Regions from separate parts of the Homo sapiens genome. Here region 2 is linked to region 1. Evidence: fine-mapped expression QTL. A gene starts in region 1. The other region holds a variant in brackets. All regions are shown on one strand. Distances are between the middles of the regions.

The links. PIP is the estimated chance that this variant, and not a neighbour inherited with it, causes the effect.
Region 2: its variant is the best candidate, but not a certain one, in a credible set for the expression of COX18 in whole blood (INTERVAL, PIP 0.60).

The regions. Positions count from the first base shown.
Region 1 is chr4:73,067,126-73,072,509 of GRCh38, reverse strand. COX18 (cytochrome c oxidase assembly factor COX18) reads left to right here and starts at 2,794. Exons shown (of 6, transcript NM_001297732.2): 1 at 2,794-3,193; 2 at 4,381-4,481. The coding sequence starts at 2,861. It overlaps LOC112268467 (a long non-coding RNA gene), which reads right to left and starts at 2,564. Exons shown (of 2, transcript XR_002959797.2): 1 at 2,481-2,564; 2 at 688-797. RefSeq lists enhancers at 2,443-2,959, 2,506-3,025, 2,960-3,475.
Region 2 is chr4:72,909,303-72,914,686 of GRCh38, reverse strand. No RefSeq gene overlaps it. Among named protein-coding and RNA genes, the nearest start is that of COX18, 160 kb to the left of the region's middle. The variant T/C (reference allele first, on the strand shown) is at 2,168.

The sequences.
Region 1 (5,384 bases):
GACTAAATGATTACATGATAATTACACCCCATATTCAAATTTTCAGCACTTAATTCAGGCTACTACAACAAAAATACTGTTGACTGAGGAGATTAACAGAATGTGTTTCTCACAGTTCTGAGAGCTACAATGTCTAACGTCAACATGCCAGCCTTTATGGTTTCTGTTGAGGGCCTTTTCTCTGGTTTGCAGATGGCTGTTTCCTTTTCAGTTTCTTTGTGTAGGGCAGAAAAAGGTCATCTTGCTTTTGTCTTTTCCAAGAGACAGGATCTCTGTCACCCAGGCTGGAGTGCAGTGGCATGATCATAGCTCACTACAACCTCAAACTCCTAGGTTCATGTGATCCTCCCCACTCAGCTTCCCAAAGCACAGGGATTTACAGGTGTAAACCACCATGCCCAGCCTTGTTTCTTCCTATGAGGGCACTTACCCAATTCAAGAGCTCTACCCTTAAGACGAATTACCTCCAAATACCATCACCTTGGGGTTTCAAAAAAGAATCTGGGGAGGACAAAAATATTCAGTCCATAGCAAGCTCCATTCCTGTGTTTGGCACCATGATGGTTAAGAATTACAGAGACTGCAGAAAGAAAATGTAATACGTAGTCTCTTCTTAAGGAATTTAAAGTTGAGAAATTAACTGACATAACACTAATATCAAAGACTGGAATAAGCTAATTATAAATGTTGAACCTTTAAAAATGTTTTAATACATTGCACAAGTTCATTTGCAAAGAGGATTGACAAATGATTTCAGTTGGTCCACTCAATAGTTGTAGATCATTTTGTACTGTACTCTGAAACAAAAGATACAAAATAATCACAATGTTGTATAAACAGTACCTATACATTAGTAGTAACACTTTTCTTTTGCATTGGGCTTTAAAATTGACAACTACTTCCCCCAACATCCTCTACCAAGTAGATAGCAAGTTCTAGTCATCCCTGTTATATAGATTAAGAAATGTGTTTATACACATATATGAAATTAGCAGAAACTAAATATTCATAAATTTTATTTAGATCAATATTCAAACTTAAGGAAATACTTTTTAAAATAAGAATGTAATATATGAACACAATGTATAGCAAAAAATGTGTTCCAACACTGAAATCTCATTTGTGACCCCGATAGAACTCCACAAAATTAAATCTTAGGAATTGAAGAACAGCTTACAGCTTTTTTTTTTTCTTTTCTTGCTTTTTTTTTTTTTTTTTAAAGAGATGGGAATCTTGTTGCTACCCAGGCTGGAGTGCACTGGCTCGATCATTGCTCGCTGCAGCCTTGGACTCCGGGGGGCTCAAGCAATTCTCCCGCCTTAGCCTCCTGGTAGCTGAGACCACAGATGCAAGCCACCACATCTGGATGATTTTTGTATTTGTTGTAGAGATGAGGTCTTGCCATGTTGCCAAGGCTGATCTCTAACTTCTGCCCTTAAGGTATCCTCCCATCTTGGCCTCCCAAAGTGCTGGGATTACAGGCGTGATCCACTGTGTCTAGCAAAAATAACTTTAAAATTCTGTTCAGATTATGAACAGCTGAACAGTAGTCAGTAGCAACTGATGGCTTTTTTGTTAGCTTAATAAATGGATAAAGAAATAGATTGGTAGGTTTTTCTTTTAGAAAAAGTTTATATATAGTGTGTGTTGTGCTGTGTGTTTAAACACATTTAAAAATTCATGTATAGATTTATCAGTCAGTTTGGAAAGCAGATGAATTCCAGAATCCTGAGAAAGTTATCGTAGGGTACCCTTGGTTAGGTGCACAGTGAAGGGCAAACAATAGCTGGCGTTTGACATTACCCAACATTGTTGGAGGCTTCTTTTCCTAAGTAAGTAAATAAATAAATAAATAAAAATCAAGGTTTACTCCTCACAACATATTTTAGTCTGTAGTCTAGGGGTGACCCTTCGGTGAGGAAACTCCTCCACAACATTCCATTTTGTTGTTTCCAGGAACACAAAAGTTAAAACTATATAGTCCATGTAGATTCAACGTATTCCTTTAAACCAGAAGACAGCCAGTGCTGCTGTTCAGGCTCTTTAAAGCTTATATAGGATACAAGTAAACTCAAGGAATTCACCGTACTGCCAGTGATAGTTTCCCTTAAATAAAGAGATGATACTTTTACTATAAGATTTTTGCTGCTATTTATCATGGAAGACAAAACACCGAAGAAATTCAGTTTGCAGTTGGTGGTCCAAATACTAACTGGAACAGATGGGCCAATTAAATCTACAAGAGACTGAACTATCCCTCGTGCTTAACACTCAGAGTCAGCAAGAAACATGCGTCTCTCTACAAGCAGGTACTTTAGCAACGTGTGACTCTTGAGTATGATAATCTATCGTAATCGCTAACGGAAGCAATCAGGTGCACGTAAAGAGGTTGGGGATCAGCTTCTGGTCACAAAAAACCGAGCAAGGATAATTCCACTACAAATGACTATTAGCTTTAGTGAAAAAGAATGGTAAGTTACACGGTGTAGATGAACTTTACAAGGCGAGAGCTCCCTAAAGAACACCCAGCCTGGCGGAGGGCAGCAGGCTCCACCCATGTCTCTGCAGTTTTGGTCCGGCCTCGGACTAACTACACCCTAGCAGCGGGAAACTTTCGCGTGTGCGCAGTAGGCCTGTCCAGTGCCGCGTGGGAAAGGCGGGACTTTCCTATCTCTTGCGTCACATCCACTGCGACGCAAGACGTCACCGGCTTGACTGGGAAGGTCAATCGCGGCTGCAGGCAGGCGCGCATGCGCTTTATGCCCGCTGTTGCTGGCGCGTGCGCGTATCAGCCTTGGCTGGCCGGTGTATGTCCGCTGGATTGTGAGGCCCGGGATCTGGGCTCCGCCGTGGTGCAGAAATGCTGTGCCGGCTCGGCGGTCGGTGGCTGCGGCCGCTCCCTGCCCTGCAGCTTTGGGCTAGGGACCTGCCGCTTGCGCCGGTTCCTACGAGCGGCGCCAAGCGCCCCACTCTCCCAGTGTGGGCAGTGGCACCAGTCTCTGCAGTACATGCGAACGGCTGGTACGAGGCCCTGGCCGCGTCTTCGCCGGTGCGGGTTGCGGAGGAAGTACTGCTCGGCGTGCACGCCGCCACGGGCCTGCCCTGGTGGGGCAGCATTCTGCTCTCCACCGTGGCCTTACGGGGTGCTGTCACGCTGCCTTTGGCAGCCTACCAGCACTACATCCTGGCCAAGGTGAGGGGCGCCGAGCCGTGCGCGTACCCTGCGCTGCAACCCCTGCGGCGGAGGAAGGCCGACATTCACTCAGGGTTTTCGATCGCACGATGTTGCCTTCTGCAGTGCTTAGTGTTTAATCATCGTGACCATTTCATTGTGACCATTTTAGCGTTAAAAAAAATTGAACTAGCATTAGGTGTGTTAAATAAGATACTTTGTGACACGTGTACCTGTCATTTCTTTTGTCTTACTGGATTTGTGCTCCAAGCACAAGTGGTTACTATACTTGCTCTCGGGGAACGGAGACAAAGAAATCAGTCGCAGAAGAAATTGTGTTGGCGAAACCTACAAAATTTATGTCTTAAAAGTTTTAATAGCCAGTATGTCTGCAGTGTCTTTCGTCCCAAAGTATTCCAGCTGGTCTTTCTTATTAGGAAGAAACTACTAGACTAACAGTTTGCGAACTTGTTTCCTCTCCAGACCCGACTAAGACTGTGTCTGGTTGGTCGCAGTTACTTGACCTTTTAATGCTGAATCCTTTTTTCTGAGGAATCAGGCTAGCAGTACCTTCCTTGCCTACTTCACAGCGTTATCAGAGCAAGTCAGATAATACGGGTTAAAGTGCTTGATTATTCAAATGGGATATTTCAAAAATAGTGGCTTTCTTGTTTTCAGGTTGTGAGCATGGGGAAAAAAAACCGGAAACAAAACAGGAACGGAATCAGCAGCAACATTAAGGCAGTGAGCCATTTTACAGGAAGAATGAGCACAGGGCAGGAATAAATGCTATTTTTACTTTTGATTTGTGGCTATCACAGTGTATTAAAGGTTCTTAACAAACTGCTGTTTTCTCCGCTTACGTTACTAGGAAATGTAGAGATGGAACAGTAAAGCCCAGGGTGCAGTTCTTATCTAATATTTGTAACCCTGTGAAGTAGGTGCTGTTATATATTTTATATGTGAGGGAACATGATTTTAGAGGTTAAGTTACTTGCACAGGATCACATGGATAAGTATGCATTGTGAATTTGGTTGTGACTGAGGACATTTTAAGCAAATTAACATCTTGTGCTTAGAATTAAGATTTCTTGATATGATCAGTAAACTACATTTTTAAATGACTCGAGGGAATAATGTGAAAGATTATGAGTCATTATGAATAAAGATCCTTTATGTGCTCATAACAAAACCTATTTTTTAGCTAGGTGGAAAATTTGCAGCCAGAAATAAAAACTATTGCCAGGCATCTTAACCAAGAAGTTGCAGTTCGTGCAAATCAGTTGGGGTGGTCCAAAAGAGATGCCAGGTAAGCTAATTATATCCACGTAAGACCATACGCACACATACACACACACACACACACACACACACACACACACATACATAAATTGTGATGTTAATTATAAGTTTGAGTATTCTGTAGTTTTGGCAGTAAAGTATTTCTTTTTTTATATATATATATATATATATTTTTTTTTTTTTTTTTTTTTTTTGAGACGGAGTTTTGCTCTTGGTGCCCAGTCTGGAGTGCAATGGTGTGATCTCGGCTCATCACAACCTCTGCCTCCCAGGTTCAAGCGATTCTCCTCCCTCAGCCTCCCAGGTAGCTGGGATTAACAGGTAGGCACCACCATGCCTGGCTAATTTTGTATTTTTAGTAGAGATGGGGTTTCTCCATGTTGGTCAGGCTGGTCTGGAATCCTGACCTCAGGTGATCCACCCTCCTCGGCCTCCCAAAGTGCTGGGATTACAGGCGTGAGCCACCGTGCCCAGCCTACTCTTTTATATTTTCATAAGTTATTAATATGGCATGATAGTTTCATATGCTGGACTGAAAGCAAAGAAATAAATAGATAAAGATAAGAAGAGTATGTTCCTATTCTTTAGGGATTCCAGCCTATTGAAAAAGACAGACCTGTAATCAAATAATGATGTCAGTGAACTAACTGTTATATAAAGATGATGTACAAGGAGCTAGATCATCAAGGAAGGTCAGGGCAGGGTTCACAGGATGAAGGCACTTTGCCATTCTTTTGTGATATTGGTCAACAAATGACACAGGTTATTTACAATCTTGACCTTTTGGAAAAGATACAGCAGGTAATAGCCTACAGGAAAGAGGAGGTAGAAAACAAGTGCCACAGTAGAAACACTTTGATAGCTAAGATGCTGTCTATCCTTTGTGGTTATTCTGTGCAGTTGTCTGCCT
Region 2 (5,384 bases), 160 kb after region 1:
CACTGCTGATAAATACCCGAGACTGGGAAGAAAAAGAGTTTTAATTGGACTTAAATTTCCACATGGCTGGGCAGGCCTCAGAATCATGGCAGGAAGAAAAAGGCACTTCTTACGTGGTAGCAGCAAGAGAAAACGAGGAAGAAGCAAAAGTGGAAACCCCTGATAAACCCATCAGATCTCATGAGCCTTATTCACTATCATGAGAATAGCACAGGAAAGAATGGCCCCCATGATTCAATTATCTCCTCCTGGGTGCCTCCCACAGCACATGGGAATTCTATGAGATACAATTCAAGTTGAGATTTGGGTGGGGACACAGCCCAACCATATTATTCTGCCCCTGGCCCCTCCAAATCTCATGTCCTTACATTTCAAAACCAATCATGCCTTCCCAACAGTCCCTCAAAGTCTTAACTCATTTCAACATTAACCCAAAAGTCCACAGTCCGAAGTCTCATCTGAGACAAGGCAAGTTACCTCTGCCTATGAGCCTGTAAAATCAAAAGCAAGCTAGTTACTTCCTAGCTACCATGGGGTTACACATATTGGATAAATACAGCCATTCCAAATGGGAGAAATTGGTCAGAACAAAGGGGTTACAGGCCCATGTAAGTCCGAAATCCAGTGGGGCAGTCAAATTTTAAAGCTCCAAAATGATCTCCTTTGACTCCAGATCTCACATCCAGGTCACGCTGATGCAAGGGGTGAGTTCCCATGGTCTTGGGCAGCCCCACCCCTGTCGCTTTGCAGGGTACAGCCTCCCTCCTAGCTGCTTTTATGGGCTGGCATTGAGTGTCTGTGGCATTTCCAGGCACACTATGCAAGCTGTAGGTAGATCTACCATTCTGGGGTCTGAAGGATGGTGGCGCTTTTCTCACAGCTCCCCTAGGCATTGCCCCACTAGGGACTCTAGGGGCTCCAACCCCACATTTCCTTTTGGCACTGCCCTAGCAGAGGTTTCCCACCCCCTGCTGCAGCAAACCTTTGCCTGGGCATCCAGGCATTTCCATACCTCTTCTGAATCAGGTGGAGGTTCCTAAACCTTACTTCTTGACTTCTGTGCACCCACAGGCTCAACACCACATGGAAACTGCTATGGCTTGGGGCTTCCACCCTCTGAAGCCACAGCCCAAGCTGTACGTTGGCCCGTTTCAGCCACGGGTGGAGTGGCTGGGACACAGGGCACCAAGTCCCAGGTTGCACACAGCACAGGGACCCTGGACCCAGCCCACGAAACCACCTTTTCTTCCTGGCCATCTGGGTTTGTGAGGGGAGGGGCGCTGAAGGTCTCTGACATGGCCTGGAGACATTTTCTCCATGGTTTTGGAGATTAACATTAGGTTCCTTGCTACGTATGTAAATTTCTGCAGCCAACTTGAATTCTTCTCCCCAGAAAATGGGTTTTTCTTTTCTATTATATAGTCAGGCTGCAAATTTTCCAAACACTTATGCTCTGCTTCCCTTATAAAACCGAATGCCTTTAACAGCACCCAAATCGCCTCTTGAGTGCTTTGCTCCTTAGAGATTTCTTCTGCCACCAGATACCCTAAATTATCTTTCTCAAGTTCAAAGTTCCACAAATCTCTAGGGCAGGAGCAAAATGCCACCAGTCTCTTTGCTAAAACATAACAAGGGTCACCTTTACTCCAGTTCCCAACAAGTTCCATATTGCTATCAGCATTTTGGGCAAAGTCCAACAAATCTCTAGGAAGTTCCAAACTTGCCCACATTTTCCTGTCTTCTTCTGAGCCCTCCAAACTGCTCCAACCTCTGCCTGTTACCCCTTTCCAAAGTTGCTTCCACATTTTCAGGTATCTTTTCAGCAACACCCCACTCTACTGGTACCAATTTACTGTATTACTGTGTTTTCACACTGCTGATAAAGACATACCTGAGACTGGGAAGAAAAAGAGGTTTCATTGGACTTACAGTTCCACATGGCTAGGGAGGCCTCAGGATCATGGTGGGAGGTGAAAGGCACTTCTTACACGAAAGCAGCAAGAGAAAATGAGGAAGAAGCAAAAGCAGAAACCCATTAGATCTGATAAACCCATCAGATCTCGTGAGACTTACTCACTATCATGAGAATAGCACAGGAAAGACGGGGCCCCATGATTCAATTATCTCCCTGTGGGTTCCTCCCACAACACGTGGAAATTCTGGGAGA[T/C]ACAATTCAAGTTGAGATTTGGGTGGGGACACAGCCAAACCATATTACCACCCATCTCAGGTATGCTTGTAATACTTGGAAATTCTGGGATTGATTTTCTATCCTTCTCATAGCCAAAAGCCAAATAGTATTCATAATTCATTGCCAGTTTCACCACAAGTCCAAGCTTTTACCAAAGATTCCAGTACCTGAATCCAGAATTTATTCCTTACAGATTTTCTTTCTCATAAGGTATTATTTATGTGAAGCTCTTGAAATTGGATAGCATCACTTTTAATTTAACCAAAGACAATAGCAATACATCAGATGCTACTTGTGGGGAAGTATCAGTACAAAAATAGTGGTCTTTTCAGGAAAAATTAAAAGTGCATGTTTGGGGATGGGCTGCCAATTCCTAACAATAAAATCAGATTTCTGGGCAAATGAGTTCTGTGTAACATGTAGCTTACAATGCCCTTTTATTTACAGATTGAAGGGTTCCAGTTGATCTGCTTACTGTTGTATTATGTTCCTCTCAAACAATAAGGAAAATACATCCACAAAGGTGAAGTATAGGGGAGATTATTATTTTCTCCAAATTGGCAACTACAAGATGCCAATTGCCAATGGAATGCACAGCTCTTAGATTACTTTGGATTCTCAGTAGGGGCTAAGAAGGAAGGTCAGGTAAGATACTTTACATCAAAGACTGACAGTTAATGGAGTTAGATCAACCTTATGGGGAAGGGAAAGGCAGGGCTTGTGACAATTTTATTCCTAAAAGAATTTCTGCCTTGTTTTTAGCCATGATGTTAATTATATGGAGCAAGAAATAATAAAGTCAATGGCTAAAATAATGAATTGGTCATTTTCATAGGCTTCTATTGTCTTCTTTTGTCAAGCTTCTCTCTTCATTCCCCATTACGCAGTGGTTTTATCCTTCATTATAATGACTTTTCCTGCGTCACTTTCTCCTGAACCTCTTTCAAACACTAAGAATGAAACTAAAAATTTTATTTTGGTGGTAGTGTCAGTGACTCATTATTGTTCCATTTGTTATCACTTCTAGGTAACATTTATAATTTAAACGATAGTTTTGTGCACCTCTATCCCAAACGGTGACCAATAAAAAGCAGTTTAGGCTCTCCTTGGTGTTACTCTAACTACCACACCTCGACTCTGATAAGAAGATAGATTAAAACAGTTTTTTAAGTCTTAGAATTAATTCAACAGATATTTATTTATTTATTTATTTATTAGAAGTTTGCTTTGTCACTCAGGCTGGAGTGCAGGGACATGATCATCGCTCACTGCTCTTTCAAACTTCTAGGATCAAGGGACCCCCTGCCTCAGCCTCCTGAGTAGTTGGGACTACAGGTGTATGCCACCATACCAAACTAATTTTTTTTAAAAAATTGTAGAGATGGGGTCCCATTGTCCTGCCCAGGATGGTCTGTAACTCCTGGGCTCAAGTGTTCCTCCAGCCTCAGCTTCTCAAAGTGCTGGGATTACCAGCATATGTCACTACCCCCGGCTTCAACAGATAGCTAATGAAAACCTACTATTTGCCAGGGGCTATTCTAGCTGCAGGAATACAAAGATGAAGAAAATACAACCTTTGCCCTCTGTGAGCCACTAAAGATGTTGCTGGTATGGAAGTATTATAGTTTTCTGAGCATGTAGGGCTTTTGGTGTAGTTTCCTTAATGAAGCTGGCCCAAAGATTTTATAATGCCTAACATATAAGAAGCTTCCTAGAAATACTCACTAGAATACTTTTAATCATTTGTTCCATCATCTTCCCAAGTTTCACTGTATTCAAGGCAGCTGCTGAAAACCTCTCTCATTTTCTCAGCTACATTTATCTTCTCATTAACTCACCTATTGTGCCTTCTCCAAATGGCTCAACCACTATTCTTGCTCACACTTGCAGAGCTCAGGAGTGCCCACTTCCCATCTACTCCCCTAATTTGTGACTGTCCTCATTACGCACAGCTCTGGAGAAATCTAGGTCTTCTCCCATTCAGATTTATGTCCTCATAAGCAGTTCTTCTCTTGAAATCATTATTGACTAAATGCTATATCTTATTGCATGCTAATACTAATATTAAATGAATAATCAATGCATGACTATCATCATATCATGACAGGAACTATAGACAATGCATAAATGAATGGATGTGGCTGTGTTCCAAATAAGACTTTTCTTCCCTCAGAAAAACAGGTTATAATTTACTGACCTCTGATGTAAAGGCTTGTAGGCCATTGTAATGACTACAATGGCTTTTTTTTTTTCCTCTGAGGACAAAGAATGCTTTTAGAGGGTTCGGAGCAGAAGAGTCACATCATCTGCCATTTAAAAAGAACCACTCTGGTTCTGGGTTGAGAATTGACTAAAGGGAAGTGAGGTCCAAGGAAGAGAGCAGGTAGTGGGGATTATTGCAGAAGAGGACGGTGGCATGAAAGCGAGAAGTCATGGGATTCTGGAGACATTTACAGGATTTGCCAATGGATTGCATCTGGGGTTAGTAAGGGTGTGAAAGGGGAATGGCCAGTTGGAAAGCAATTAGGTATTCCTGATGAGGGGTGGTGCTGGCCTGGCCTGAACTAAAATGATGGCCTATTAGTTTTATACCAAAAAACTGACTTTGTACAGTTATGAAGCAGGGAAAGGGTGACGATGGAGAGTTGTTCCCTGATACTCTTTTTAAATGGGAAAACTGTTGATCTGCCTCATTTCCTATCTGTGACTTTCTTCTGGGCTGCTAAAGCAACCTGAGGAAACTGAATGGAGAATGTGAGGAGTTGTTGATAACATCCCTCCCAGCTCTGCACCTGCAAATTCTAGCCAGAGTGGTGAGAATCCTCCTACCTGTAGGGGGTGGTGGTTGCATGCCTAATAAAACAGAGAGTAGGCCAAAGTCGAGTTGATTCCTTCATTGCACAGTTTAGTATGTGGAGAGCAGAACCTTAGTTATATTCCTAATGAGTTATCAACATAGTTAATGAAATTTAAGATGCCTCTGATTTCTGATACATCATTATTTTTTTACCTGCTAAAAGAAAATCACAGTCAATTAAACTAATACACAATGCTTCTTATCACCTCAATTGTGAGACAATTTCTGATTTTAGAGTTGTCAAAAATGTTAAAAACATGCATCTTAAAGGAAACATAACATGCTAAAAAAGAAAACATAATAACAACATAAGCCGAAAATCAAATGAAAACAGGGGCT